Linked DNA regions of Homo sapiens. The protein of the gene in region 3 binds, or shares a complex with, the protein of the main gene of each other region. Each region holds a gene or a part of one and is shown on either strand. Other genes may lie near its edges.

Region 1 (8,163 bases), on a different chromosome or scaffold from region 3:
CCCCAGAGCATTCGTCAGTTGTCAAGTCCAAAGCTAAGAAATCAGTTCATAAATGTTTTTTGATTTGCATGTTGGCTCAACTCTTTTTAAGTCCAAGGAGGCAGTCCACATTAAGTGTGCAGGCAAAAAAGAGATGGAAAAAGGAGTCAGTTTCTCCCCTGCCCTCCCTCTCTCCCTTTATCAAGCTGAGCACCTTGAGTTGCATTTGAGGAAATGAAAACTATAGGTGACGCAACCCCATTGTGTCGAATTCTTTCTTTACATTTTTTGGGTTGCTACAAGGAATCAGTATTTTTTTTTTTTAATCAGATGGTGTGTGTGGTGGCTCACATCTGTAATCCCAGCATTTTGGGAGGCCGAGGCAGGAGGATCACTTGAGGCCAGAAGTTTGAGGCTGCAGTGAGTTATGATCATGCCACTGCACTCCAGCCTGGGCAACAGAGTGAGACCCTGTCTCTAAAAAATTTAAAAAAAAATCAAAGCATGAACAAAACTTTAACAAGAGAATAAAGAGGGTTGTTAGGTGGAGACGTGGCCAGCACTCCACCTCCACTTTGAAGTTCAGAGGCAGAGCATCTCTCCCTCCCACACTTGGAGGGAGGGCCCGTGGGCTGTCTCTAGCCCTCACCTCACAGCTGGTCTTCTTGCTCTCCCTGCTCAGCTTCTGCTCTGGCCTCGGCCCTCAGCACCCTGAGGTTCCTGGCCTCTCCTGCCCTGGGGACTCTCTTGGGCAGGGTTGGCAACCGGGGAGTGTGCCAGAAGGCTCTCCGGCGCTTGCAAAACCACGAAAAGCGTCCAGGGGTCTGGAACCTCACTGTCTTGACCTGTTTCCGGGCCCTGGCTCCTGGAGCTGTTCCTGTGGTCCCTTGGGCAGCTGAGACTTCAGCTTCCTGGATACCTGGGGCCCCTGCCCTCTGATTATGTGCAGCCTCTGCCCTCTGGCCAGCCCGGGCCTGTGCCCTCTGATTATCTGCACCCTGGACAGCTGGGGCCCTTTCCCTCTGGTCATGTACGGCCTCTTCCCTTTGATTATCTGTAACCTCTGACCCCTGGTCAGCTGGGGCCTCCGCCCTCTGATTATCTGCAGCCTCTTCCCTGTGGTTATCTGTGCCCTGTGACCTCTGGTCAGCTGGGGCCTCTGCCCTCTGATTATCTGCAGCCTCTTCCCTCTGGTTATCTGCAGCCTCTGCCCCCTCCTCAGCTGGGGCCCCTGCCCTCTGATTATCTGCAGCCTCTTCCCTCTGATTATCTGCAGCCTCTGCCCCCTGGTCAGCTGGGGCCCCTGCCCTCTGATTACCTGCAGCCCCTTCCCGCTGGTCAGCTATGGCCTCTTCCCTTTGACTATCTGCAGCCTCTCCCCCCTGATCAGCCTCGATGTCTGCCCCCTGACCTGTGGGTGCTGTCTGCTCCTTCCTGCGGCGCCGAAAGGAGGCCCAGTTGATCTTGGGCCTCCATCGCCTAGGGGAAGCCTGGGGCACACAAACATCTCCCGCGTTTCCCAAGCGATCCCCCGGGCTGGTGCCCTCTGGCGCCGATGATACCCCTGCGCTCTCCACTGCGGTGGAGGCCAGCCGGGCCTCGCCCACCCCGGGGCCCGCCCTCGGCGCCCAACCCTTCACCCTCCGCTTCAGCTTCCCCCAGGACACCTGGCTGACATACTCCCGCCACCTGTCCGCTTTGGACAGCTGAGGCCCCAGGTTGTCCTCAAACATGGGCACTGGCAGGTTGACGCGGCGGCGGGCAGGCGGCGCGCTGGGCTGCTTCTCCTGTCGCCGGAGGAAGGCCTCGACCAGTTCCTCATCATCCTCACTCTCCAGGTCGCTTCCCAGGAACTTGCTGCCCAGGTAGCTGACGGGCATTTTGCGCACCTTCTTGCCCCGCCGCGGGCCCTGGCGGCTCTTGTCTCTGGAGGTCTCGAAGTCGCTGAACTCGCTGTCGCTGGCGTTGCTGCTGTCGTACGTGCCCACGACCAGCCGGGGCGGAGGAGTCACCATCTGCTGCACTCTCCTCCTCACTCGGGGCTCCTTGGGCTTTTTGGGGGGCTGGGGCGGGTGCGGGGTGCTCTTCTCCATGATGCGGGCCACGTCCTCCAGGGTGCGGCCCTCTTCTTCCAGGAACTGGGTCAGCCGCTCCCGAAATTCTGCTTCCTTGGTGGCGGGCTTAGAGATGACTCTCCAGACGCCCCCAGCCAGCCTGACCTCCCGGGGGATGAGCAAATAGTCGACGTCCTCCCCGATCTGCAGCATCCCCACCGTGGAGTCCTCCTCCTTGCGGAACACCTTGCCGATCTTCTTAAATGTCCCCACGGGCTTTAGGGCTTCCACGAGGACGTCCAAATCCACATCTTTGCAGACATCGGGGACGCTCCAAAGAATGAGGCAGTCGGGGGACGGCAGGAAGCCCCAGGGGAACCAGCCCCCCACGTGGCTTTTCTCGAGAGTCTTTAAGATCTCCAGGGTGATATCTGGGGTGAGGGGGCAATGAGCCCCAACAAACTACTGTAGCCCTTAGTCTTGAGGGAGGGACTGGATGGGGGGAGTTCCAGCAACGCTGACCGGAGAGTCTCACCTCCCTAGCCAGGGACGAGCCAAACGCCTCCAATCTCTTCGCCTGCAACAAGTACAGTCTTGACCAAGTCCGGCTCCCCCACCAAGGACTTGGGGGAATCAATTTCCAGGATGCCTACGTGAGCCGGGGGCGAGGTCAGTCCCAAGGCTCAAGGCCCACTCCAAGCTGGAAACGTGGTGTCCCAGCTCCAAGTTGGGGCGCGCGGGCTGCCAGCGACTCTTCCTGCCCCAGGCCCCAGGGACGCGGCTGGAACTTGGGACAGGACTTCGCAGACAAAGACGGTCCAGTCGAAGCTATTCAATATGGCCGAGGCGCTGGGAGGCCCCAGCCCGGGCCTCCAGTAGGGTCCCCCGCCCCCAGGCAGGCCGCCACCCAGCTCCAGGCTGACCTTGACGCGCCGCAGCCTGCCAGCCCGCGCGCTTAGAGCTCTGCACCGTGGAGCGCGCGGGCAGGAAGTTCCTCCTCGCCCTCCGCCAGAATGAGGCCCACCTTCCCCCGTCTCATCTTACACTCCCAGACTCTGGAAGACTGACAGGGGGGCTGTCCACTCCCTTCGGGGCGGCCTCCTTCCCCTCCCCCACAGGGGTGTGGCCGCGCCCCGGGCCTAGCTGGGCCCATTGCTTCCCAGCGAAGCGGCAGTGGCCCACGTCAGCACCTTTCCTGAAAGGCAGCGGTTCCCAAACCTGCCATCCGAAATGTGCAAGTTTCCAGCCAAGTCCGGGAGGTGGGTGTGCTAGTGGATTCTACTTTTTGAGAGCCACTGGCACCACAGATTAGCATTTTAAATTCACGCGACTATCGGTACCCGTACACCTATATGCGTGGGTAGAGAAATGGGTACCTGACTGCAACAGTCCCACTGTGGCGCTTGGCAGGTCAGGGCTCAATACATATTTTTGAGGGGATGAATAAACCCAAATGTTCATGGCCAGGCGCGGTGGCTCATGCCTGTAATGCCAGCACTTTGGGAGGCCCAGGTGGGTGGAACACTTGAGGCCAGGAGTTCGAGACCAGCCTGCCCAACATGGTGAAACCCTCGTCTCTACCCCGGGTGTGGTGGTGCGCGTGCGTAGTCCCAAGCTACGCGAGAGGCTGAGGCAGGAGAATGGCGTGAACCTGGGAGGTGGAGGTTGCAGAGATCGCGCCACTGCACTCCGGCCTGCGCAACAGAGGGAGACTGTCTCAAAAAAACAAAAGTGCAAAAAAACCCCTACAAATAAACAACAACAAAAAACCCTAAAAGTTCACGAGTAGAGACTGCCTCTATTTTATGGTAGTATCTTACAGTGAAATATTTTGCAACTTCGAAAAAAGAATGAGATGGCTAAGGATAGGCACGGTTTATGAGGCGCTTCCTATGTAGTAGGCACCATTCCCAGTGCTTTCTATGAATGAACTCAGGAAATCCTTGCTATAACAGGAGACTGGTAGCATGAGTACAATTCCCATTAGACAGCTGAGGAAACTGAGGCCCAAGGACATAAAACCACACTCTCAAGGTCACAGCCATGGGGAGTGGTTGAGTTTGGATTTGAATCCAGAATAGTCTGCCTTTTGTGTCGACCAAAGAGTCAAGATGGCCAGGCGCGGTGGCTCACGCCTGTAATCCCAGCCCTTTGGGAGGCTGAGGCGGGCAGATCACGAGGTCAGGAGATCAAGACAAGACCATCCTGGCTAACGCGGTGAAACCCTGTCTCTACTAAAAATGCAAAAAAATTAGCCGCGCGTGGTGGTACGTGCCTGTAGTCCCAGCTACTCGGGAGGCTGAGGCAGAAGAATCTCTTGAACCCGGGAGGCGGAGGTTGCAGTGAGCCGCGATCGCACCACTGCACTCCAGCCTGGACGACAGAGCAAGACTCCGTCTCAAAAAAAAAAAAAGAAAGAAAGAAAGAAAAAAAAGAATCAAGATGTGAACCAATGCTAGTCGCATTCGGCCGGGAGCTCGGTTCTTGAGACGCGAGTCTACCGAAGCTCCCGCCAGTTGAGAGGCGAGTCTGCCGAAGCTCCCGGCCGAAAAAGCCAAATCCTTCCTTAACCCAGTGTCTGAGGGGTTTTGTCCGTGGCTCCTCCTGCTACAGGACATGCGACTAGCATTGGTCCACATCTTTGGAACCAGGCATCCAGAGACATGTTGAATAGGCCTCGTTGTTAGGAACCCTCAGAGGTACATGGTAAGGCCAGTGCCATCAATCATCTTTTTACAGACGGTGAAACTGAGGCTGGTCTGAAGTTGCACAGCTCTGAGTGGTGGATCTAATATAATATTAGAACCAGATCTTGGGCACTAGCATTTAAAACACTAGCTGACGCTAAAGACACAGCTAATCCCCTTCTCCTAAATGTGTTGCACCATTTAACCACTTAGCAGCCACAATACTTGCAGCCACTCTTGCCTGGATGTGTACAAAGCCCCCTCACTGGGCTTCCCGCCTCCCCATCACTGCTTGCAATCCAGGCCCCATCCAGAAGCTGGGGGCATCTTTTAAAAACTTAGGTCCGATCTGTCTCTACTCTTTTGAAAATTCTCCATCTCAGGCTGGGCGCCGTGGCTCACGCCTTTAATCCAGCACTTTGGGAGGCTGAGGCGGGCGGATCACCTGAGGTCCGGAGTTTGAGACCAGCCTGGTCAACATGGCAAAACCCCATCTCTACTAAAAAATACAAAAATTGCCGGGCGCGGTGGCTCACGCTTGTAATCCCAGCATTTTGGGAGGCTGAAGCGGGTGGATCACCTGAGGTCAGAAGTTTGAGACCAGCCTGGCCAACATGGTGAAACCCCGCCTCTACTAAAACTACAAAACTAGCCTGTCTTGGTGGCGCATGCCTGTAATCCCAGCTACTCCGGAGGCTCAGGCAGGAGAATCGTTTGAATCCGGGATTCAGAGGTTGCAGTGAGCTGAGACCGTGCCATTGCACTCCAGCCTGGGCAACAAGAGCGAAACTCCGTCTCAAAAACAAACAAACAAAAAAAAGAAACGAACAAAAATATAAGAATTAGCCGGGCATGGTGACACATGCCTGTAATCCCAGCTACTGGGGAGGCTGAGGCAGAAGAATCGCTTGAACTGGGAGGCGGAGGTTGCAGTGAGCCAAGATCGCGCCACTGCCCTCCACCTTGGGCGACAGAGCGAGACTCCGTCTCAAATAAATAAATAAATGTGATCTTATTTAACTCATAAAGGAACCAGGCAAATTTTTAAAGAGGGAACGGAGGAAAAAGAGACGGGCCAGAGGGAAAGAAAAGATGTGGGGGCTTAGGGGACGTTAAGGTCTCAGCGAGCGGCCTGTTCACAATTACCGGCTTATTCAGGTTGTTTTTCTCTTGCAGAGCCAGGTCGTTGGGCTTCGCTGGATTTTTCTCCTCTTTCTCCCTGGCTCAGTCCCAGCCGCCGCGCTCAGCCCCCGGGCCTCCCGCGGCCCCGCCCCTCGCCTCCCCCTTCGCACAGTTTGTGGCCTCCGCAGTCCGGCGGTCTCCATGGCAACCACGGGACGCGCTCCTCCGCGCGGATCAAAACTAAGCGGGTGGGGCGGAGGCGGAGGCGAGGCTGCAGGGAGATGGTGGGGGTGGGGGCGCCACGGAGGACGAGGGCAGGAGCTCCTCTTTTCTGCCCCTGGTGCCTCCCTTAGGCCTCATCCCCAAAGCCAGCTTCCCTGAAAAGCTGTTTGTAGAAACCAAAAAATGAAAAATCCTAAGGACACCTAGGTTTCAGGAATGCTGATTAAAGAATCGCAAGTCTGAGGGCTCATGACAGTGCCTTCCAAGTGGTGACCTCGCAGATGAGACGTTTGGGTTTTGTAGTCATAAAAGGGCTTTCGTTTTGTTTGTTTGTTTTGTTTTTTGTTTGTTTTTCTTTTTTTATTTGGTGGGGGAGCAGGGAGCGGCGCAAGGAGGATAATCTAAGAAATGAAAATCCCAAATGTTCCATATTTTTGCAAAAATCGTCAACCTCCGGCCGGGGGCGGTGACTCATGCCTGTAATCCCAGCACTTTGGGAAGCCAAGGCAGGAGGATCGCTTGAGCCCAGGAATTGGAGACCAGCCTGGGCAACATAGCGAGACTCCGGTCTCCACAAAAAATTTAAAAATTAGCCGAATATTATGGTGTGCGCCTGTGGTCTGAGCTACTCGGGAGACTGAGGTGGGCCTATCGCTTGAGCCCGGGAGGTCAGGGCTGCAGGAAGCGGAGATCGCCCATCTGCACGCCAGCCTGGGCAACAGAGCGAGACTCCATCTCAAAAAAAAAAAAAATTGCCAGCCCCTGAACGGTTCAGCTGTGGGTGTTTTTAATTGCACAGATCTCTGGCAGGTGAGACCCTTCTCCAGCCATCACAGAATAAAATAATAAAAACGAGAACTGTAGCCTCACTTTTGCATTTGTTTAAAATAAATGGAAAGTTGGAAAAGAATGGGGAAGAGAAACAAAACACGGCTGAAATCCCTCTACCCAGCTACATTTTGTTGCCATTTAAAAAAAAAATGGGACACGCGGGCCAGGGGCAGTGGCTCAAGCTTGTAATCCAAGCAATTTGGGAGGCCTACGCGGGCGATCGCCTGAAGTCAGGAGTTCGAGACCAGCCTGGCCAATATGATGAAACCCCACCGTCTCTACTAAAAGTACAAAAATTAGCTGGGCACGATGGCAGGCGCCCGTAATCTCAGCTACTAGGGAGGCTGAGGCAGGAGAATCGCTTGAACCTGGGAGGCACAGGTTGCAGTGAGCTGAGGTGGTGCCACTGTACTCCAGCTTGGGCAACAGAGTAACACCCTGTCTCAAAAAAGGATACACGGTCAGAAAAAGCAAAAGTTACAGAAAGGTAAATTTTTTTCAAAAAAGGATTCTTCTCCCCAAACCCCACCTTCCAGCCTCTCCCCAAAAAGTAACCAGTTAAATATCTCTGTATTTTTCCAGAGAAAAAATGCTTGCATTAGTGTATGTGTTAATTTTATTTTATTTTATTAATTTATTTTTTTTTTTTTGAGACGGAGTTTTGCTCTTATTGCCCAGGCTAGAGTGCAATGGCGCGATCTCCGACTCACCACAACCTCCACCTCCCGCGTTCAAGCAATTCTCCCGCCTCAGCCTCCAGAGCAGCTGGGATTACAGGCCAACCCACCCAGCTAATTTTGTATTTTTAGTAGAGACGGGATGTCTCCATGTTGATCAGGGTGGTCTCGATCTCGAACCTCAGGTGATCCACCCACCTTGGCCTCCCAAAGTGCTGGGATTACAGGCGTGAGCCACTTCACCTGGCTTTTTTTTTTATGTTAATTTTAGAATTTATCTCACAGAGATTTTTTTCCCCCATCATCCTAAATTATTTTCATCACAGCACTTACCACTTTCTGTTTTTGTTTTTTTTTTTCTTTGAGACAGGGTCTCACTCTGTCACCCAGGCTGAAGTGCAGTGGCATGATCATGGCTCACTGTAACCTCGAAATCCTGGGCTCAAGCAATCCTCCCACCTCAGCCTTCTGAGTGTCTGGGGCTACAGGTGTGTGCCACCATGCCTGGCTATTTTTAAAAATTTTTTGTAGAGAGGTATTCTCATTATGTTGCCCAGACCGGTCTTGAACTCCTGGCCTCAACTGATGCTC
Region 2 (7,739 bases), on a different chromosome or scaffold from region 3:
AATGAATGACTCATAATGCCTAAACCTCACTGGGTGTTCCCCCTGTGCCAGCCACCACACTCAACATCTTACATGATTATCTCTTTTCGACCTCACAACATGAGGGACAGTCATTTTCCTCATTTTACAGAAATAGATATGTAGAAAATGACATGAATCTACAGCTCATAGCTGAGGTTAGGACACAAAAGTGTCCACAAGGCAGATTTCTTTGGTAACACATTTTGAAAGGATATTGGGGTAGGAGATGGAACAAGCTTTCAAGTTCTCTGCACTCTCTGCTGTGTTTGGTCGTCTCTATTTTTAGCATTGGTATCTTTTGTCTGAATTATAACAGCTTTGAATGTTAGTGTGGTCTTCACCAACTCTAGTAGTTTCAAGAGGTTATAATCTGGGTGACACGTGGGAGTGGGGGTGGTTGATCAATGTGACATAGGGGTAGGTGAGGGGCATGGTTTAAAGTTAGGGTGCCCAGGGAAAGTCACTCAAGCCTCAGTGTTTTCATCCCCAAACTGCTCTCTTAGAGTCCTTTGCAAATATCTATGTCTGATTCTAAATAGTGGGTTAAAGTGTCTGTAAGGTCCCAGGCTTGGCATTCATGGACACTCCTTGGGTTTTCTTTGTTAGAATTTGTGTCCTTCCATCTGCTGTTCCCTGCTGTAAATCTTGGTTATTTTGGTATTCAATAGCTTCTCTAGAAGAAGGCTAAATCAAAGGAAGCACAATGCAAAAACTACATATTGATGCTTCAAGGAAAACCCGGTGGTGTATGATCAAGGGGAGTTGCTGACTGTAACTGGCATTGGGTGCCCGTGGAAAGGGTGGGGACCTGGGTATGACGAGGGTTCAAATAACTACTCTGCTACTTTCTAGTGTAATGAAGAAAAGTCATTTAATCTCCTTGGTTTCCAATTTTCTCATTTATAAAATGAAGATAAAAATTTCTACTGCTCAGGGTTGTTGTAAAGACTCAGTGGTATAGAGAATGCAATGCTGAATTACGTCATATAGGCTGAATTTTAATCTGTTTAGAATAAGACAACTAAATGTCTACTGTCACCATGGAAGGTTGAGGAACAACTCTAAATCATCCCACAACCTAAGAAACCTGCTGTGCTGTTCTCTGGTTTTTGTAAGCTATTCATTCTTGTAAGTTATTCACTCTACTTAGAAGAATAAGAAAACATTCTTTTTAAATTATTTTCATCCTAATGTATGATCCAGCTTACTTGCAAGAATGGAAGGTCCCTGCTTTCCATAATACCACCTTTTCTGTAAACATCTGCCTTATTTCATCCCAAGTCCTTATAACATTGGCATTAGGAAAGAGGTCCTCAGGTCATACACTAGACTCTCTGTTATTCATTTTTAGACTTTCTAGAGCAATGGTTCTGACCTTTGTTGAGTCACGGAGCTCCTTGAAAATCCGATGAAAACTACAGTCCCTCTCTCCAGAAAAATTCTCATCTGTGCATAATTTTGCATATAATTTCAGATCATCCAAGACTCTACTGAAACCATTCATGGACAGAGGTTAAGAACCCTTGCCTAATGGTTGCAACATGGTCATAAGTAATACTGCTCCTTTAATCCTGATGATATTTTGTTATTATTAGCATGAAACAGTAATCTGTCATTTTAAGAGTTTGTTTTCCTAAATTATTTTCTTTATTTTTCCCACTGTGACCAAGAACAAAGGCATTTAGAGTAAGCCATCCAGAATTTACTTTATAGCTCGTGGCTCAGAACACAATTGGTAACTGATCTGTACTGCAAGCGCACTGACAGTAAACTAGTCATTGTTCCTAAGACTCACTAAGGTCAGCCAAGCCCTGAGCACATGTAACTCTCCATAGTTTCCACTTTAACCCTGGACATCTAACTACAAAGCAGAGCTAAAAATAGACCAAGCCGAGCACTTACACTCCACAGAGATGCATTTCCAACCCCAGGGGTTTTAATCAACAACACTGTTCACAATCCAAAGAGAATGCTTTCATTTAGCAGGAAAAAGTTGCTTCATTTTGAGCAAGCTAAAATACAACCTAAAGGAATTATGAAGACTTTGAAGTGTTCAAAAAATATTATCTGCACCTGTGTTCTAGGTCTAAAAAAAGAAAGACTAAAATACCTTCAGGATTGAGTTGGCTTTCTTTGCCTTTCACATTGAATTATTCAAAGGAAAACATATTGGCATTTTCCCTCCTCTTGTTTCTAGGTCAGCATGCTTCTACCAAAAAGTTTAAGTTGTTCAAACATAACAAGCCATAATAAATACCTACCTACAAAAATATATACATAGTAGGAAGGAAAAAGTAATGAGTTTGAACACAGAAAAATAATTACAGTTCCATTCCCTAGAGAAAGTTTATTATCTAAGGCTCTTTATGGCCAAAATGGATAAGTCTTCCGAGGATTATATAGAGCAAATGTTTTCACAATAAAATTTGCTCAAAGGTTTAATTATTAATGATATATCAGACTATGAATAAATATAAAGATTGCATATGTGGCTAAAAGAAGGATTTGTATAAAATTAAGATAATTTTAATATAAAATTTTGCAATAGAGTTGAGAAAATAAAGATCCTTTAAAAATACAAATTCATAAAACTCTAGATTCTACAGCACTGGGGAAATGAAATAAGTACACAAGGAGTTACATTGACAACTGCCTTATAATGAAAATGCCCATCTTCTATAAACCTAGCACAAACAGTCCAGGAAAATGGATATTTAAAATGTAATCTTTCTCTATTACATGTGCTTTCCTAAATGAGGTTCTTAAGCATATCTGCAGAACGTTTTTCAGGGAAACAAATTGAGGCTGTCATATACATATGGTATTAATTCCTCCCAGCTTTTATTTGGAAGCAGTTCGTCTGAGGCAAGTGCTAAAAGAAATGAATTCACCTCAGTGACAGTATTTCCCTATCTGCAGCCAATGTGTGATCCTTATGAATATCCCACGGCAGAATATGACCTATGAAATTGAGACTGCGAAGTGATCCTGTTCCATTTTAATGGAATTTCAGAGTGTTGCCATCATACACTCCAGGTAAACCCCAGCAGAGTCTGGCTCTGTTACTCAACCCAGCAGAAGCTCCCAGGAGGCCACCATCACTGATAAAATGATAGCTGTAGATCAGGTGCTGCTCAAACCCAACAGGGATTTCGGAATTTCTGCCTTTGGAAGCATGCCTCACTTCTAGTTAAACCGACCACTCTATTATTTTCTCAATAACTTTTTAGATTCCCAGAGAAAACAGCTTTTCTAGTTGCCCTACCAGATATTTTGTGGGCTTAAATTTTGTAAGACTGAAAAGTATGTTATGTTTATAGCAAAAAATGCAACCTATGCCAGGTACTTTGGAGAAGAGGAAAAGAGGCAGCAGGTGGTTATCGACCACATAGCCCAGAAATGTCTATGTTTTGAAGATCAGCAGTTTTTTTCTGTGGACTCTAGATAGATTTTAAATAAAAGTCACGTGTATCTTGCAAGTGTTTTTTAATCTCCATGAAATATTTCATTCTGAATATGAAGAAAATAAAACTTGCCTTGGACTGAGAAAGTAAATATCTGCCCAACATTCATCAGGCTGAAACAGCAGACACAGATAAGCCAACTGCAAAGTGAACAGGAAATGACATTTCTCCCAGGGACGTTGCTGTTGTAAAGTGTCATGGTAACGTCCTTCTTTGAGTGACTATAGATTCACTGAGAAACTTTCTTCTCTAATATCAAAGACAATCAGTGAGCTTGCTGTTTAAAATTATATCAGTAAGAATAAAACATCTCACTCTTGCCTGCAGGATCTTAGTTGCTTAATTGAAGCAGAGAAGCAACCTCAATTCCCACTTCTGGTGAGAAGTCCCAGATAAGGGGCTTGGGGATGCAACAGTCCACATTTATCTTAACTTTATTGTTTCCAAAGAAATAGCACCCTGGGTTCACTTTGCAGACCAGACCTGCGTCTAAGCTCCACTCTTCCTAGAAACCTAAAATAACCTTTTTTCCTCTAGTGTTTAGTCTCCTTCATTGCATTGGGTCAATAAACCTAATTTTGTCGGAATACAGGTTGGTTCCTATTATTCTTAGACTGACTGAGATAGGGCCATGTTTTTATCAAATGGTCGAGCTAAAGAAATTATCTGCTGCATAAATAGTAGTTCCGAATTTTAAGTATTTGCTATTAGATATTGAAAAAATATTTAATAGAATATATCTTCGCAGTAGTTCAGTCTCCTGTGCCCTGTGAATTTTAAATTGTATATATCAGCTTCTCATCTAGGCAGAAACATTCTGAGCGCAAGGAAACCCGCTGTGAATACTGAAATGATCTTTTCTCGCCCTGCTGCTGCTAAAGTAACCTGTGGCAAAATTTGCCTGCTCTTAGAAATAGCAAATTGGCAACACAAGCAAGACTCGCCCGTGAGAACACCAGGCTCTTAGTGAAGCTAAAAGAGACAATAAAGGGAAATAGGTAGGCACGGGTCCCGGGTCTCCCAAACAAGGTCTGTCTGCACACTTGGTTGAAATGCAGGGCTGCCGTATTTAAGAAGTAACTGGGAGAGGCTGGGCACGGTGGCTCACGCCTGTAATCCTAGCACTTTGAGAGGCCCAGGCGGGTGGAACACCTGAGGTCAGGGGCTCAAAACCAGCCTAGCCAACATGGTGAAACCCTGTCTCCACTAAAAACACGACATGAGCCGGGCGTGGTGGTGCACGCCTGTAATCCCAGCTACTCGGGAGGCGGAGGCAGGAGAATCGATTGAACCCAGGAGGCAGCAGAGGTTGCAGGGAGCCGAGATCACGCCATTGCACTCCAGCCTGGGCAACAAGAGCGAAACTCTGTCTCAAAAAACCAAAACCGAACCGAAACAAAGCGAGAAGTAACTGGGAGGGTTACTCAGAGCACACGCCTCTTCCTGAGGTTGGAAGGTTGGAGGAGGGCGTCCGACATACCCATGGGAGGAGCCATAATCGTAGGCTGAGGCTGCCTTCCGACTGACTTCAGAGCTCAGGGCGTGCTGCGAGGCCTGCTGCTGGGAGGAGGAGGCGGACGCCCGACGGAAGGCCTCGGACTCCCGGCGGTGCGCGGCGGAGGAGCGGCTGCTGTAGGCCGTGGAGCCCTGGGTGTAGACGGCGGAGCGTTTCTTCTCCCGCTGGTAGTGACTCACGGTGCTGCGCACGTCCTTGTTGCGGTAGCTGAGATCATAGTGCTGGTGGCACCTCTGATAAAAAGGCAAAGACATCCTGTGCCCCTTGAAGGAACCGGGCCACCTGAAGGAAAACAACACTTTTTGAGTGACTTATTAAGGAACAAATTCCATAGACCAAGTCATCTAAATCAATGTGTAAAAATCAATACTCTTGGCTGGGTGCGGTGGTTCATGCTTGAAATCCCAACGAGGATCTCTCGAGGCCGGGAGCTCAAAATCAACCTGGCCAACACAGTGAGACCCTATCTCTACAAAAAGAAAAAATTAGCCGGGTGTGGTGTGTGTGTCTGTAGTCCCAGCTACTCCGGAGGCTGAGGCAGGAGGATTGCTTGAGCCCAAGACTTCGAGGCTGCAGGGAGCTATGATTGACCATTGCACTCAGCTTGGGTGACAGAGCAAGACACTGTCTAAAAACAAAATAAAATAAAAATTAATATTCTTATCTTTTCCGAAGAGTAAACCAAAAAGGGTATGAAGTTTAACATAACTGGATATTCAAAAAACTCTCCACTTCATAGCCCAGATATGCCCCTCCTGTCATTGTACCTTTTTTTAAAAAAAATTGTATCTAGGAGGTTTTCCTAGAAAAACAAAGTTTTTCTACCCTGGCTATTGTGCTCTTTCCTCAGACTCTTCATAATACATATTTCTAATTTTCTGCCATTTCATTCTTCATTTGGGACTTCATTTGGGAGAATGTGGAAGGATAGAGAGTCATGTGGTGTTCATTCAACAAATAATTAGCAGCACCTACTGTGTGCCTGACGCCATCCAGCCCATGAAATCCAGTAGTGAGGCCGGGCACAGTGGGTCACGCCTGTAATCCCAGCACTTTGGGAGGCCGAGGCAGGCGGATCACTTGAGGTCAGGAGTTCAAGACCAGCCCGGCCAACATGGCGAAACCCCATCTCTACTAAAAATACAAAAATTAGCCTGGCATGGTGGTGGGCACCTGTAGTCCCAGCTACTCCGGTGGCTGAGGCAGGAGAATCACTTGAACTCAGAGGCGGAGTTTGCAGTGAGCCGAGGTTGCGCCACTGCACTCCATACTGGGCAACAGAGAAAGACTCTGTCTCACAATGAAACAAAACAAAAAAGAAATACAGTGGTAAACAAAACAGACAAAATGCCTGCTCTAATTACCTTGTACAGAACTGTACAGTCTACTGCAGGAGAAAGACAATAGAGAAAACAAGTAAGTCAAGTATGAGATAGGTTAATGTGCCAAGAACCAGAGAAAAACAAAGCAGGTAAGAGGGATGGATGCAATTTTCAACAGCCTCAGCAGGGATGGCTTCTCTAGACAGTAACATCTGAGCATGAGACTTTCTGGGGAAGAGTATTCCAGAAGGAAGACCAGAGCAAAGGCACTGAGGAATGAACATGACTATTGTGCTCCAGGAACCACTGATTGGCAGGGGTTCTGGGATGGGAGAGGTATAGGAGATGATGTCAAAGAGGTGAGCTATGTGCCTGGTGGAAGGGCCAGTAGTGTAGGGTCCTGTAGGTAGCAGTAAGGACTTCAGCTAATACTGTGAAAGGGCTGAGAGGCCATTGGAAGACTCTGAGCTGAGACTCATTCTCGCCGATGTCTGAAGATGGACTGTGGAGGGATGAGAGTGAAAGCCAGAAGACCTATGAAAGGGCTGAGTTGTATCCTCTCAAAATTCCTGTGTTGAAGCCCTAACCTCCAGTACCTCAACATGTGACCATATTTGGAGATAGGGTCCTTAAAGAGGAAGTTGAGTTAAAATTAGGCCATTAGGATGGGCCGTAATTCTATATGATGGTGTCTCTATAGGAAAAGAAAACCAAGATCCAAATATGTATATAACAGAGGGAAGGCCACGTGGAGACACAGGGAGAAGACAGCCATCCATGAGCCGAGAAGAGACCTGAGAAGAAACCACCCAGCTGACACCTTGATCTTGGACTTCCAGCCTCCAGAGTTGTAAGGTAATAAGTTTCTGTTGTTTAAGCCACCCAGTCCATGGCGCTTAGCTATGATAGCCCGGGCAAAAGAATACAAAGTCCACTGCAATGGTCCAGGCTAGAGGTGACAGGGGTAGCAGCGAAAGTGTGAGAGGTGGTCAAGCTCTGCACAGCTTTTGAAGTTAGAACCAATGGCATTTGCTGAAAGTTCTGAATTAGGATGTGAAAGAAAGAGATGACTCCAAGGTTTTTGCCTGAGCAATTGAAAGACAAGTTGCTATTAACTGAGATGGGGAGGAATGTGGGAAAGTATCAGTTTGGGGTGGAAGAACAGGAGATTGGTTTCAATGCTCTACATCTGAGATGCCTGTTAGACCTCCCAGAGGAGACATTTTAAGTGGGAAGCTGGATACATGACTCTGGAGTGCAGGAGAGAGGTCCAGGATGCAGATATACATTTGGGAGTCAACAGCATATAGGTGGTATCGAAAGCCAAGAAAATAGGTGAGAACCATTGTACACGGAAAAGAAAGTCCTAAAAGAAAACAGATGAGGACCATTATACACAGAAAAGGAAATTACAGG
Region 3 (5,790 bases):
AAAAATAAAAATTAGCCGGGCATGGTAGTTACTAGGGAGGCTGAGGCAGAAGGATTGCTTGAACCCAGGAGGTTGAGGCTATAGTGAGCTATGATCATGTCACGGCATTCCAGCCTGGGTGACAGCAAGACCCTGTCTCAAATTTTAAAAATGGGGTTGATCCCCGTCTCAAGTGTCTCTGGGAACATTAACTGAGATAACATGAAAATTCTTACACAGAGCTTGGTGAATGGTTGTCATTTGTGACACATCTCTTCTAACTTATTTCATTCAAGAAATCATCACAATAAACCTGTGTCCCAATGTTATTCACCTTGTACAGCTGGGGCAACTGGGGTCCAGAGAGGTCAGGCCATTTGCCAAAGATCACATAGCACACAAACTATGTGGTAGAGCGAGGTTCCATTCCTAGTGTGTCTGACTCCAAATTCCGTGCTCCTTCAAGTGTCACAGCACCCCTCACCCAGACTCCACGACCCCCTAACCACACTTCTCCCCCTTCCTGTGCCCTCATCTCCTAACCCTGATACAGCCCTCCCCCCGCCAAATCTGTCCACCGTGCTCCTTTCTTCCTGCACCCTGGTTCCGAACTTTTTTGGTCAGGACCTTAGGTTGGGTGTTCAGGGGTGTAGGCAGGGCCAAGGGATGAGGATTGACTGCAACCCCTGCCCAGAGCTGGAGGCCTCATCCTCCCTCTCTCCATCTCCCCCGGCCAGCGAGGCAGCTGAGGGTGCTGCGGCCTCTGGAGGACGTGACCATCAGTGAGGGGGGCAGTGCCACCTTCCAGCTGGAGCTGTCCCAGGAAGGTGTGACCGGGGAGTGGGCCCGGGGTGGAGTACAGCTGTATCCAGGACCCAAGTGTCACATCCACTCGGACGGCCACCGTCACCGACTGGTACTCAATGGCCTGGGCCTGGCCGACTCAGGCTGTGTCTCCTTCACAGCGGATTCCCTGCGCTGCGCAGCCAGACTCATTGTGAGAGGTGTGGCCTCCAGGACCACAGCCTGCCTGCTGACCTGTGTGGCCCTACTTACCCCAGGCATGAATACTGACCCCCAACTCGTGTGACCCCCACTGACCATGCCTGTCTCAGTGTGGCCCTCATTGACATCCCTGCCAGAGTGTGATCCCCCTGACTCATAGGCCCTGTGTGGCCCCAGAGTCCTCTGCCTGGGTGTGGCCCCTGACTGCCCAAGGCTCAGCCAACCACTGACTCTGCTACCAAGAGCATGCCTTTGCCATTGTGGTCACTGCTGTCTGCCCGCCTGCACACCACCCCACTGACCACTCTAACTGTGACCCTACTGGCTACACTGTCTGCCGTGGCTCCCTCTGCCCGCCTAAGTGTGGGCCCCGTGACCACTCCAGTCCCTTGAATCCACTGACTGCCTACGGGCGACATCACTAGCAAGTCTGCTTGAGTGTCCCCCATTTTTACTTCCAGTCCCAGGATGTTCCCACTGACCACTCCACTGGCATCTCTGCTTGTTTCCCCATTGCCCTCTGGCCCCCAGCTTCTCCCCCACTGACCACCTTAAAGTGTGACTCCCAGTTGGCCACTCCTAACCCATTGGCCCTGTGGCCCTGCCCACCTACATCCCCCCCACCCCCACCACTGACAGATCCTTCTTGGACCACTTGTCCCAGCTCGAACCCCACTCGCTAGTGTCCTCTACTGCCTGTTGTGCCCAAGTGTATGTCCTCCTTGTCCCTGCAAGATGGGTCCCCATCCTGCTCCCTCTGCACTGTCCTCCCTCTCCCACCCCCAGAGGTCCCAGTGACCATCGTGCGGGGGCCACACGACCTAGAGGTGACCGAGGGCGACACAGCTACGTTCGAGTGCGAGCTTTCCCAAGCTTTGGCTGATGTTACCTGGGAGAAGGTCAGATCCCAGCCCCAGCCAAGCCCACTTCAGTGTAACACCAACGATAATAATGCCCCAGACAGAAACAGCTAATATTCCTTGAGCGGATGTGCCTGGCACTGTGCTAAGATTTGCATTATATTTAATCCCTTACTCCAAGGACAACTCTAGGAGGTAGGTCTTGTCACTGTAATACCTATCAGGAAACTGATGCTCAGTGGGAAAAATTACCTACCCAAGGGCAGACAACAGGTAGAGCCCATATTCGAATCCAGGTTTGCCTAACTCCAGAATCCGTGCCCATGTCCCCTGTGATCGATACCTGGCTCTGGGCTTCCCGAGTGCCTTGGCGGCCCTAAGGTCCCCAAAGGGTGACGCTTTTTCAAAGAGGCTCCTGGCACGACCCCAAAGGCTTGGGGACAGTCCGACCCCAGCCTGGGAACACGAGACACGCATAAACGCGCCTCGAGACCGCTTGGCATCAACAAAGGGTGCGCCGCCTGCCAGGGCCGGGGTCGCCTGTGCCCAGCCGGGCTCGCCCCGACCCTCTGCAACTCCCGCCCCTAGGACGGGAACGCGCTTACGCCTAGCCCGCGGCTCCGGCTCCAGGCCCTCGGCACGCGCCGCCTTCTCCAGCTGCGACGCTGCGGCCCCTCGGACGCCGGGACCTACAGCTGCGCGGTGGGGACGGCCCGCGCCGGACCGGTCCGCCTGACCGTGCGCGGTGGGTACGGGGTGATGTGGAGGCTGGGCACTGCTTTGGGCGCGAGACTTGCGGAGCTGTCTTCCCCGGACCCTGATGACCGCGCGTGCTTCTAGAAAGGGGGCGTGGAGGGGGCGTGACCGGTAACTGCCCTCTGCCCCGCCCCGCTCACGCCCCGGGCTCCGCCCCAGAGCGTACTGTGGCGGTACTCTCCGAGCTGCGGTCGGTGAGCGCCCGCGAAGGCGACGGCGCTACGTTCGAGTGCACCGTGTCGGAGGTCGAGACCACGGGGCGCTGGGAGCTCGGAGGCCGCCCGCTGAGACCCGGAGCCCGCGTCCGCATCCGACAGGAAGGTCTGCCCGCCTGGTTACCCTTTCGGGCCCCTCGCTGCCCCGCCCAGGCTCGAACAGATCCCGCCCCACCGGGACAAGCCCCGCCCCTGGCTCCGACGGGCCCCGCCCCACGGCCCTGTGAGCCTCGTCCCTGTTCTTTCCCCCGCCCCCAGCCCCTAGTCCCGGACCTCTAGGCTTCCCGCTCCGCATCCCTGTTCCGCCCACCCTAGCATACACTAACGGCGTCCGAACCGACCCAGGGGCCTGCTGGGCCCCCACCTTCGTCCCCAACGCTCCTCAGAGGTGGCTCCGGCCTCGCTAGCGACCCCCTCACCCCCAGGGAAGAAACACATTCTGGTGCTTAGCGAGCTGCGCGCCGAGGACGCCGGTGAAGTCCGCTTCCAGGCGGGGCCCGCCCAGTCCCTGGCTCTACTGGAAGTGGAGGGTAAGCACCTGGGGTGGGAGCGACAGAGAGTGTACATCCTGTCTCTCCTGCCATGGGACTGACGGACTTGGGGCTGGCCCCAAGAACGCTGCCTCTCTCTTCCCTTCCCCCCGAGGGGCTCTCCTGGGCCGGGTCACAGAGGGCAGCGCGTTTCCCCGGCAAGAGGAGACTTTGGGTCTGAGGTGCAAGGGAACGGACTGGTGGCATAGAGGGCTAAGGCCAGGAGTGGAGACTTCAGGGAGGGAAGATGCATCTCTCCTCCTGGGGGCCATGCGTGTCCCTATTAACTTAAGCCCCCGCCCCCTACCCCCAGCATTGCCTCTCCAGATGTGCCGCCACCCCCCTCGCGAGAAGACCGTTCTGGTGGGCCGCCGGGCGGTGCTGGAGGTGACTGTGTCCCGCTCGGGGGGCCACGTGTGCTGGCTGCGGGAGGGGGCCGAGCTGTGCCCGGGAGATAAGTATGAGATGCGCAGCCACGGCCCCACCCACAGCCTGGTCATCCATGACGTTCGACCTGAGGACCAAGGCACTTACTGCTGCCAGGCCGGCCAGGACAGCACCCACACACGGCTGCTGGTAGAGGGTGAGTAAAGCCAACTGGGCAGCGGCAGGAGGGTGAGGGCGCCTGGGAGCTGATGGGTTAAGCCACACCTATGGGAGGCTTTCCAGAACTTGGGGTGGCAACGGGTCCTGGGATACGTAGGAGGTGGGGATGGGGGAGGGGAGGGGTAGAGCACACCCAGGGCTGGAAAGCCCTGGAACTGCTTGGCTCAGATCAGCTGCTCCTGGTCAGCTGTTCCCACCTTTCTACGCCCCTTCTTGCCAGGCTTCTCCTCTCTCCTGCCACTGGACCATGTTTGTCTCTCTTGAACAGCCCTGTTTCTACCAGTTCCTTTCCTCCCCACTTCACCAACACTGCCTTCCTCCAGCCTGTCCCTCCTCCTTCCTGCCCTCTGCCCAGCTTGCCTCTGCCCATCTCAGCAAGTTCCATGTCAGCCTTGGCAGAAGCCTCTTTCTTTCCTCTTCCCCATAAGAGACATCCCACCTTCTATCCCAAATCCCAGCATTCCCTTCAGGTGCCGCGCTGTGCCCCACCCCTAGCTGACCCCCACCTTCCTGCCGCCAAGACAGCCCTAACCAAGGCCCAGAAAGGGTAGGGCAGAACCTGGGGGCCCAGCTCTTTGTGTACTGGTGTCCAGGCTCTGCCAGGGGAGAGGAAGGTGGTACCCCCTTCTCTCCCCAGCCCCATGTGGAGTCATTCCTCTGCAGGCAACTAGGAGAACCTAACCAGGCCAGGCGGGTGCCCTTGGACAGCTTGGAAGGCGTTTGCCCTTACCCTGGGCAGGGGTAGAGAGACAAGGAACAATAAAAGTGCTACAGCTCATTTCCTTGCCTCTCTGAGTGATGTGGGGGGGCAGACCTTGCCTGGAGCCCCTGTGCAGTGAGCGACACTGGGGACCGAGGGCTGTAGTGCTTGTACCTGGCCCATGAAAGTGCCAGCCACCAAAGACCACCATTCCTGGCAGAGGCCACACAGTTTGGCACATTTATAAAAGATGTAAAACAGAGTGGGGTGGGGGAGACAGAAGCATGAGGTGTCTAGGTTGGCATGACAGACACCAGACATGCACCGTGCATTTAAACCCCTCCCCAACTCCCTTCCCAACCCAGCCCAGAGCAGCACCCCCCCACCCCCATCTCCTGCCACTGCCCTCAGGCTGGTGGCTTTACAGAGGCCAGGGGACCAGGGTGAGGGATGCTACAGTTTGCCCCATAGACAAGGACAAGAACCCTTAGATGAGTCTGGCTGCGAGGCAGGGCGATGGGAAGGAAGGTAGCCCCTCCGCGGAGACATGCAGGAGGTGGCCCATGGGACCTTGGCAGGGAGTGAAGAGGTGGGGCTGAGCCTGGAGAAACCCTACCAGTCAGAAATCTAAGGCAAGGGTCCCAGCGTCCCCTCCAAGCCTGCCCACCCCCACACACATACACACAGACACACGGGCAACACACTCACAACCCTGAGCACACCCCAATGGGGTTCACACCCCGAGTTCCTCAGGAGCCTCTTGGGAGCTTGGGAGGGGGCTTTCCTCTCAGGCCAAGACTCGCCTGAGACAATCCTCCCTTCTAGTGACCAGGCCAGCCCTCTCCAGGCTGGGGAGAGGGACAGCCAAAGCCAGGAGGCTGAGTGGCAGCCTAGCAGGCCTCCTCGAGCTGGCAGAGCTGGTGACTGCAGAGTCTAGACAGACAGATATGGCTATACCCGCACTGGGGGGCCTGAGCAGGCTGTCAGAGGTCCCCGGGACCCATACTCATAGTCCGCATCTGTGGGTGAGGCCATGAAGGAGCTCAGGGAGCTCCCGGTCTGCCGGTCTCGGAAGCTCTGGATATAGCTCTGTGGGGGAGCAAACATAGGTGTGAGTCCCACCGCAGAATCCTGCCCTA

Evidence for each region.
Region 1: OBSL1 (region 3) and CCDC8 share a complex: the UniProt entries of both Homo sapiens proteins name them as parts of the 3M complex.
Region 2: the proteins of OBSL1 (region 3) and MYOM1 are in contact, whole or in part, in a crystal structure (PDB 5FM5), measured with the Homo sapiens proteins. Residues at the interface, in NP_056126.1 of Homo sapiens: Pro243, Lys253, Phe255, Val257, Asn258, Gly260, Lys261, His262, Ala263, Lys264, Phe265, Arg266, Cys267, Tyr268, Val269, Met270, Gly271, Lys272, Pro273, Pro275, Trp279, Lys305, Tyr308, Tyr317, Cys319, Ala321, Arg322, Asn323, Ser324, Ala325; in NP_003794.3 of Homo sapiens: Arg616, Pro617, Ser618, Ala619, Pro620, Trp621, Thr622, Gly623, Gln624, Ile625, Ile626, Val627, Thr628, Glu629, Glu630, Glu631, Pro632.

The regions. Positions count from the first base shown.
Region 1 is NC_000019.10:46,410,565-46,418,727, forward strand, and holds the start of CCDC8 (coiled-coil domain-containing protein 8), read right to left. Parts: upstream 3,001-8,163; 5' UTR 2,247-3,000; coding exon 630-2,246; 3' UTR 1-629. UniProt on the Homo sapiens protein: Core component of the 3M complex, a complex required to regulate microtubule dynamics and genome integrity. It is unclear how the 3M complex regulates microtubules, it could act by controlling the level of a microtubule stabilizer.
Region 2 is NC_000018.10:3,209,969-3,217,707, forward strand, and holds part of MYOM1 (myomesin-1), read right to left. Parts: intron 5,284-7,739; coding exon of another isoform or gene 5,256-5,283; coding exon 4,966-5,255; intron 1-4,965. UniProt on the Homo sapiens protein: Major component of the vertebrate myofibrillar M band. Binds myosin, titin, and light meromyosin. This binding is dose dependent.
Region 3 is NC_000002.12:219,549,667-219,555,456, reverse strand, and holds the end of OBSL1 (obscurin-like protein 1 isoform 1 precursor), read left to right. Parts: exon of another isoform or gene 1-308; intron 309-716; coding exon 717-983; intron 984-1,770; coding exon 1,771-1,883; intron 1,884-2,432; coding exon 2,433-2,589; intron 2,590-2,759; coding exon 2,760-2,921; intron 2,922-3,240; coding exon 3,241-3,345; intron 3,346-3,658; coding exon 3,659-3,928; intron 3,929-4,171; coding exon of another isoform or gene 4,172-4,215; exon of another isoform or gene 4,216-4,588; coding exon of another isoform or gene 4,589-4,614; coding exon 4,615-4,622; coding exon of another isoform or gene 4,623-4,632; 3' UTR 4,633-4,729; downstream 4,730-5,790. Other genes in the region: TMEM198 (transmembrane protein 198), read right to left, coding at 5,603-5,740. UniProt on the Homo sapiens protein: Core component of the 3M complex, a complex required to regulate microtubule dynamics and genome integrity. It is unclear how the 3M complex regulates microtubules, it could act by controlling the level of a microtubule stabilizer.